2 linked regions of the Homo sapiens genome follow. Changing the gene in region 2 together with the main gene of any one other region gives a genetic interaction. Each region holds a gene or a part of one and is shown on either strand. Other genes may lie near its edges. The genes, in order: RINT1 and VPS4A.

Region 1 (4,020 bases), on a different chromosome or scaffold from region 2:
CTTCGAATTCTTTTAGGAATTTCTGATGAAATTGTAAGTACCTGACCATAATTTTAAAAAAGAAAGAAAGAAAGAACAGCAGCAATCAGATAAAATTTTCATAATTTTTTTTTTGAGAGGGGATCTCACGCTGTTGCCCAGGCTGGAGTGCAGTGGTACCATCATAGCTCACTGCAGCCTGGACTTCCTGGGCTCAACCAATCCTCCCACCTCAACCTCCCCAGTAGTTGGGACTACACATATGCACCACTACACCTGGCTTTTCTTTTTTTTTTTTCTTTAAATAGAAATAAGGTCTCACTATGTTGCCCAGGCTGTATGTAACCTTTTTTATTAGTTCGTTCCCTTCAAAATACACATTTTTTGTAACAGAACTGAAAATCATCCATCAAAACCTTCAAAAAAAGGTTTGATTTCTTCATCCTGTACTAATCAATCCAAACATAACATGCTGTTTTATATACACACAAATAGCAGGAAGAAGTATGCCTTTGTGTTGAAAACAATAAGTGAAACAAAAAAATAAAAATAAAATAAAAAATATATGCATACATACATATACACATACATGTAGAGAAAGGGACTTAACTCACTGGCTCCAGTAAGCATCTAGAGGTCTGCCTCCATAGGCTCAGCAGAGGATCCAGCTAGAGAAAACTTATTTTATTTTTTTGAGACAGAGTTTCGTTCTGTCACCCAGGCTGGAGTGCAGTGGCGTGATCTCAGCTCACTGCAACCTCCACCTCCCGGGGTCAAGTGATTCTCCTGCCTCAGCCTCCTAAATAGCAGGAATTATAGACACGTGCCATCACGCTCGGCTAATTTTTGTATTTTTAGTAGAGACGGGGTTTCACCACGTTGGTCAGGCTGATCTCGAACTCCTGACCTCATGATCCGCCCACCCCAGCCTCCCAGAGTGCTGGGATTACAGGCATAAGCCACCGTGCCAGGCCGAGAAAACTTATTAATACATGCTCTACCTGCTAAATATTTTCCTTCAAAGCAAAGGAAGGGCCGGGCACGGTGGCTCACACCTGTAATCCCAGCAGTTTGGGAGGCCAAGACAGGCGGATCATTTGAGGTCAGGAGTTCAAGACCAGCCTGGCCAACATGATGAAACCCCATCTCTACTAAAAATACAAAAACTAGCCAGGTTTGGTGGCACACACCTTGTAATCCCAGCTCTAGAGAGGCCAAGGCAAGAATCACTTGAACCGGGAGGAGGTTGCAGTGAGCTGAGACTGCACCACCGCACTCCATCCAGCCTGGGTGACAGAGCAAGACTCCTCAAAGAAGAAAAAAAAAAATGCAAGCTGGGTGCGGTGACTCACACCTGTAATCCCAGCACTTTGGGAGGCCAAGGTGGGTGGATCACAAGGTCAGGAGTTCAAGACCAGCCTGGCCAAGATGGCAAAATCTTGTCTCTACTAAAAAATACAAAAAAATTAGCTGAGCATGGTGGCACATACCTGTAATCCCAGCACTTTGGGAGGCTGAGGCAGAGAATTTCTTAAACCCGGGAGGCAGAGGTTGCAGTGGGCCGAGACTGCGCCACTGCCATCTAGCCTGGGTGACAGAGCGAGACTCCATATCAAAAAAAAAAAAAAAAAGGAAACAAAGATCTCATTCTAACAGGCTGAGCATCTATATTTTGCCAACATACCCCAGGTGATTCTGAATTAAGGCCAGGCTAAGAAGCACTGACTTGATGAGATGATATCCAGGCAATGCCTTTAGAAAGGGCATTTAGTGGCCAGGTGCAGTGGCTCACACCTGTAATCCCAGCACTTTGGGAGGCCAAGGAGGGCAGGTCACTGGAGGTCAGGAGTTCGAGACCAGCCTAGCCAACATGGTGAAACCCTGTCTCTACTAAAAATACAAAAATTCAGCCGGGCACAGTGTCTCATGCCTGTAATCCTAGCACTTTGGGAGGCAGAAGCTGGTGGATCACTTGAGGTAAGGAGTTTGAGACCACACTTGCCAACATGGTGAAACCCCGTCTCTAATAAAAATACAAAAACTAGCCGGGTGTGGTAGTATGAGCCTGTAATCCCAGCTACTCAAGAGGCTGAGGCAGGAGAATTGGTGAAACCAGGAGGCGGAGGTTACAGTGAGCTGAGATCGCTCCACTGCACTCCAGCCTGGGCGACAGAGTGAGACTCTGTCTCAAAAAATAAAATAAAATAAATACAAATACAAAAATGAGCTGAGGATGGTGGCGCATGCCTGTAATCCCAGCTATTCAGGAGGCTGAGGCAGGAGAATCACTTGAAACCCGGAAGGCAGAGGTAGCAGTGAGCTGAGATCACACCACCACACTCCAGCCTGGGCGACAGAGGAAGACTCCATCTCAAAAAAAAAAAAAAAAAGAAAATGGCATTTATTAAGTGAATTTTTCTTATAGTATGTGGGAAAACATATACAAATATTAGTCATCAGCAAAATACAAAGAACATTATAGAATAATTTCAATCAACAGTGATTAGATACTTATTCTGTACCAGGCACTGCGCTAGAAATATGCAGATAAACAAGACACAGCATCCGTCCTTCAGGTCACTTTGGTATATAAGAGTGTTGTAAGCAAATAATTTCAACAGTGGGATTAATGCAATAAAATAGACAGGCTATATTTAATGAATGGGCACATTAATCACCTAAAGATCTTGTTGTAATACAGATTCTGATACAGTAAGTCTGAAGTAAGACTGAGATTCTGCATTTCTACAAAGCTCCCAATCTGCCTAAACTAACATGGTATCAGCAAGAGTGGGAAAGATGGGCCGGGAGCAGTGACTCACGCCTGTAATCCCAGCACTTTGGAAGGCCAAGATCCACTTTCGGGCAGATCACCTGAGGTTGGGAGTTTGAGACCAACCTGACCAACATGGAGAAACCCCATCTCTACCAAAAATACAAAATTAGCCGAGCGTGGTGGCACATGCCTATAATCCCAGCTACTTGGGAGCCTGAGGCGGGAGAATCACTCGAACCCAGGAGGTGGAGGTTGCAGTGAGCCAAGATTGTGCCATTGCACTCCAGCCTGGGCAACAAGAGTGAAACTCCAACTCAAAAAAAAAAAAAAAAAAAAAAGAGTGGGAAAGATGGGATGGATACCAGAGATGTTGAGGCTGAACTCAGATGACTTGGTGATGGGATAGAGGATGAGAGGATGATAAGAAGGAATCTAGGACTCCTAGGCTTCAGGTCTGGGTGACAGGCAAATAGTGGTGCCATTATCTAACCAAGACAGACAAGCCTCTAAAAAATGGATCAGTATAGTTTTGGACATGCTGAATTTAAGGTTCAATAAGGAACTTCAGTAAAAGTTTCTGTGGTCATTAGGGAAACAAACCTGATTACAGTGGGTAAAAGATGAATGACAAAAAGTAGAGATAGATAACAAAGGTTACTTTCTGAAGCCTGACAATCAAAGGAAAGAACTAATACCTGCTAAAAGATCATGGGTTTTTTTGTTTCTTTGTTAAGGTTTTATGGAAAAGACCTGTCTATGTGCACATGCTGAAGGGATAGGACTGGTTGACGAACACAGGGTAAAATTATAAGAGTGACACAAGTTTACTGAGGTGGCAGAGAGAACCTGGGGTATAAGGTCTGCCTTCGACTGATCCTTTGCTGAATGAAGAGGTTAAAAATGACTGCACATAAATTTGTCGATTGTGGGATAGACTATTCAACAGACTGAATTCAATGCTACTAAATTCATGCTAGGCTTCTATTTTTTTCTGCTAGGGAAAAGGAAAGGGCAGAATGGACAGGTTGGGTAGATGTCTCAAACAGAATCTGAAAGAACAGTTGAGGGGAGTAGCAGAGGAGCTGACGTTCCCATGGAAGGACTGCTGGTGGGGCTGAAGACTCAGCCAGGGTGGCAGACCACACACATAGATTGGCATCAATCTACTCAGCTGCATGACTTCCTCCAACTGGGCCCACAACAACCTGCCTGCAGGAGTGAAAAGGCAGACAAAGCCAGGCTAAACTTGAAGACTAGCAGTAGTT
Region 2 (3,158 bases):
CAGTGGAGTGTCTCTGTGGCTGCAAGGCCCTTCCTTCTGGCTCCCTGGCAGACGGCCAGACAGCAGAGGGAACTCTGTATTGACTGGGACAAGCCCTGGAGCCCTGTCTGGCTGTTGACATGGGGAGTGCCTGGATTTGCCCCAATCAACCTCCCACCTTCACCATTGCCCAAGTGAAGCAGCTTTTAACTCTCTTGCCCAAAGTCCTCTGAGAATTTCTTCACTTTCAGGAGGTCGTCTGCATTCACCGTGGGCCGGGTGGTGGCCAGAGACCGCAGCATGTCCGACTGTGAAGGCAACAGTATGTGCCTGAGCAGGAGCCAGGCTCCAGGTCCCCAACCTCCCCTCAGCACACAACAGGCGCAGCTGAGGGTGGGAAGAGGTTTGCCTTCAAGGCCACCCCAGAGGCCTGCTTGAATCTGCCTATGGCAGGGACCCTCTTCCCTCTCGAGGCAGCTCAGATGGGCCTCCTCCTGGTCTGAGAATCTAAGCTCCATCATCTCATAACTCCCCTTACGAACTTGCTTTCTTTTTTTTTTTTTTTTTTTTTGGAGACGGAGTCTGTCACCCAGGCTGGAGTGCAGTGGCATGATCTCGGCTCACCGCAACCTCCACCTCCTCGGTTCAAGTGACTCTCCTGCCTCAGCCTCCCAAATAGCTGGGACTACAGGCACGTGCCACCACACATGGCTGATTTTTGTATTTTTAGCAGAGACGGGGTTTCACTATGTTGGCCAGGCTGCTCTTGAACTCCTGACCTCAGGCGATCTGCCCGCCTCGGCCTCCCGAAGTGCTGGGATTACAGGCGGGAGCCACGGCGCCCGGCCAGGAGCCTTCTTAGCTGCACACCCCCAACACCAGCCACAAGGGCAGACCCTTGCCAGGATGGCACGGGCCAGGCTATGCAGGTGAGGCGCTGCCTTTGCAACTGCGTCACAGTCTTGACACATTCACTGCCTCACTGCACCGCAAAGCCAAACCCATGGATTGACGTCATATTATCTGGACCTGACTTTACTTGCTAAAGAATATAAAATGCAGGCTAGGTGTGGTGGCTCAGCTCATGCTTGTAATCCCAGCACTTTGGGAGGCCACGCTGAGAGGATCACTTGAGCCCAGCAGTTTCAGACTGGCCTGGGCAACACTGTGAGGCCGTTTCTAAAAAAAAAAGGAAAAATTAGCTGGGCATGATGGTGTGTGCCTGTTGCTACTCAGGAGGCTGAGGTCAGAAGATTGTGTGAGCTCGTGAGGTCAAGCCTGCAGTGAGCTATCACTGCACCACTGCATCTAGCCTTTCTCTGTATGTACAAAATGCTAATGCTGCCACCTGCATTCTGGGCCCCCAGTGAGTGTAATGCCAGCTTCCCTGAGCTACAAAGGCCATTCTCAACAGCCCAGGACATAGAAGAAGACTATTTTTTATTTTTGAGACGGAGTCTCACTCTGTCACCCAGGCTGGAGTGCAGTGGCCCAATCTCTGCTCACTGCAACCTCTGCCTCCCGGCTTCAAGCGATCCTTCTGCCTCAGCCTCCTGAGTAGCTGGGACTACAAGTGCACACCACCACACCCGGCTAATTTTTGTATTTTTAGTAGAGACAGGGTTTCTCCATATTGGCTAGGCTGGTCTCGAACTCCTAACCTTGTGATCTGCCCACCCTGGCCTCCCAAAGTGCTGGGATTACAGGCGTGAGCTACCATGCCTGGCCTGGAGAAGACCGTTTTTATTCTGGACCCAAACCCTCAATTTTCTGGGCTCTGTGCAGCCCTCTTCCCTCCCCTGTCAAGTCACTTACCATGCAAACCACAGGCTCTAAGAGTTTGTCCCCAGGGACATCCATCCAAGTCATCTCCATGGCTCCTGGGTCCCCTGGTGAGCATGGAGTCAGGAGGTCATCAATCATCATGCTGGGGTTGGTGCGAGAGGGGCCACAGACCTGAAACCAAATGGATCTGACTGGGGCAGCTGCCCCTCAGTGTCAGAGGGGCTCGACCCCTCCGGTCTCTAAGGAAGTCCCAAAGAGAATGCTCTGTGGGTCCCTAGCATCTGAGGAGGACGGGCTCCTTCAGAACTCGGGCTGGGTGGTCCGAGCGACTCATGATTTGCATGGGACTCTGGCAATCTGTAGCCCCAATGCCTTGATGTCTTCCTCATTAACACTGTCACGTCTCACCAGGAATACAGTGACATTAAAAGTGTGATATGGTTTAGCTGTGCCCCCACCCACATTTCAACTTGAACTGTATCTATCTCCCAGAATTCCCACATGTTGTGGGAGGGACCCAGGGGGAGGTAACTGAATCATGGGGGCTGGTCTTTCCCGTGCTATTCTCGTGATGGTGAAGTCTCACGAGATCTGATGGGTTTATCAGGGGTTTCCACTTTTGTTTCTTCATTTTCTCTTGCCACCAGCATGTAAGAAGTGCCTTTGGTCTCCTACCATGATTCTGAGGCCTCCCTAGCCATGTGGAACTGTAAGGCCAATTAAACCTCTTTTTCTTCCCAGTCTCGGGTATGTCTTTATCAGCAGCATGAAAATAGATTAACACAAAGTGGTTTTCCAACTGAAGTCCGCTGCCTTGGCAAAACATTCCCCCAATGTCCACAAGGCTCATTCCCTCACACCTTCACCTCCTGTCTCAGGCATCACCCCAGTGCCATCTGCCCTTCCCTCCATGCCCGAGACACCTCTCTCCTAACCCTGCTCCATCTCCATCCTCTGAGACACTCACTGACTGTGTTGACTGTCTCCCCACCAACAACGGAAGGTCTAGGATTTTTGTCTGTTGGTCACTCATATCTTCCCAGCACTTAGGACAGGGCCGGGCACACAGGAGGACCCACAGCAAATACTCAGCAGAGATCTGCTGAATGAATAGACAGGTCTTCCTGGTCATTTTATATCCAACACTTTCCAAACACTGATTTGGTGTCCACCCCGCACAAGAGCACACAGTGCTGACGGAGGAGGCCGCAGCAGGGTTAAGACAGTAAAGTGGCCCTGTCCTCTGCTTTCACACACCCTGAGATGGCCACACTCCAGAAGAGCTGCAGGGAGGGGACAGTGGGTGCAGCCCCCATGGCACTGGCCCTCGGCTCTCCAGGAGGCCTCAGAGACTGTGTCACCTGAGCAGCCGGGGAGCAGGACCAGGAGCTGGG

Evidence for each region.
Region 1: changes in VPS4A (region 2) and RINT1 together harm fitness more than expected from each alone (negative genetic interaction), as found in Homo sapiens cells (one large-scale study listed by BioGRID).

The regions. Positions count from the first base shown.
Region 1 is NC_000007.14:105,538,429-105,542,448, reverse strand, and holds part of RINT1 (RAD50-interacting protein 1), read right to left. Parts: intron 723-4,020; exon of another isoform or gene 594-722; intron 42-593; coding exon 1-41. UniProt on the Homo sapiens protein: Involved in regulation of membrane traffic between the Golgi and the endoplasmic reticulum (ER); the function is proposed to depend on its association in the NRZ complex which is believed to play a role in SNARE assembly at the ER.
Region 2 is NC_000016.10:69,321,337-69,324,494, reverse strand, and holds part of VPS4A (vacuolar protein sorting-associated protein 4A), read right to left. Parts: intron 1,936-3,158; coding exon 1,795-1,935; intron 288-1,794; coding exon 186-287; 3' UTR 1-185. UniProt on the Homo sapiens protein: Involved in late steps of the endosomal multivesicular bodies (MVB) pathway. Recognizes membrane-associated ESCRT-III assemblies and catalyzes their disassembly, possibly in combination with membrane fission.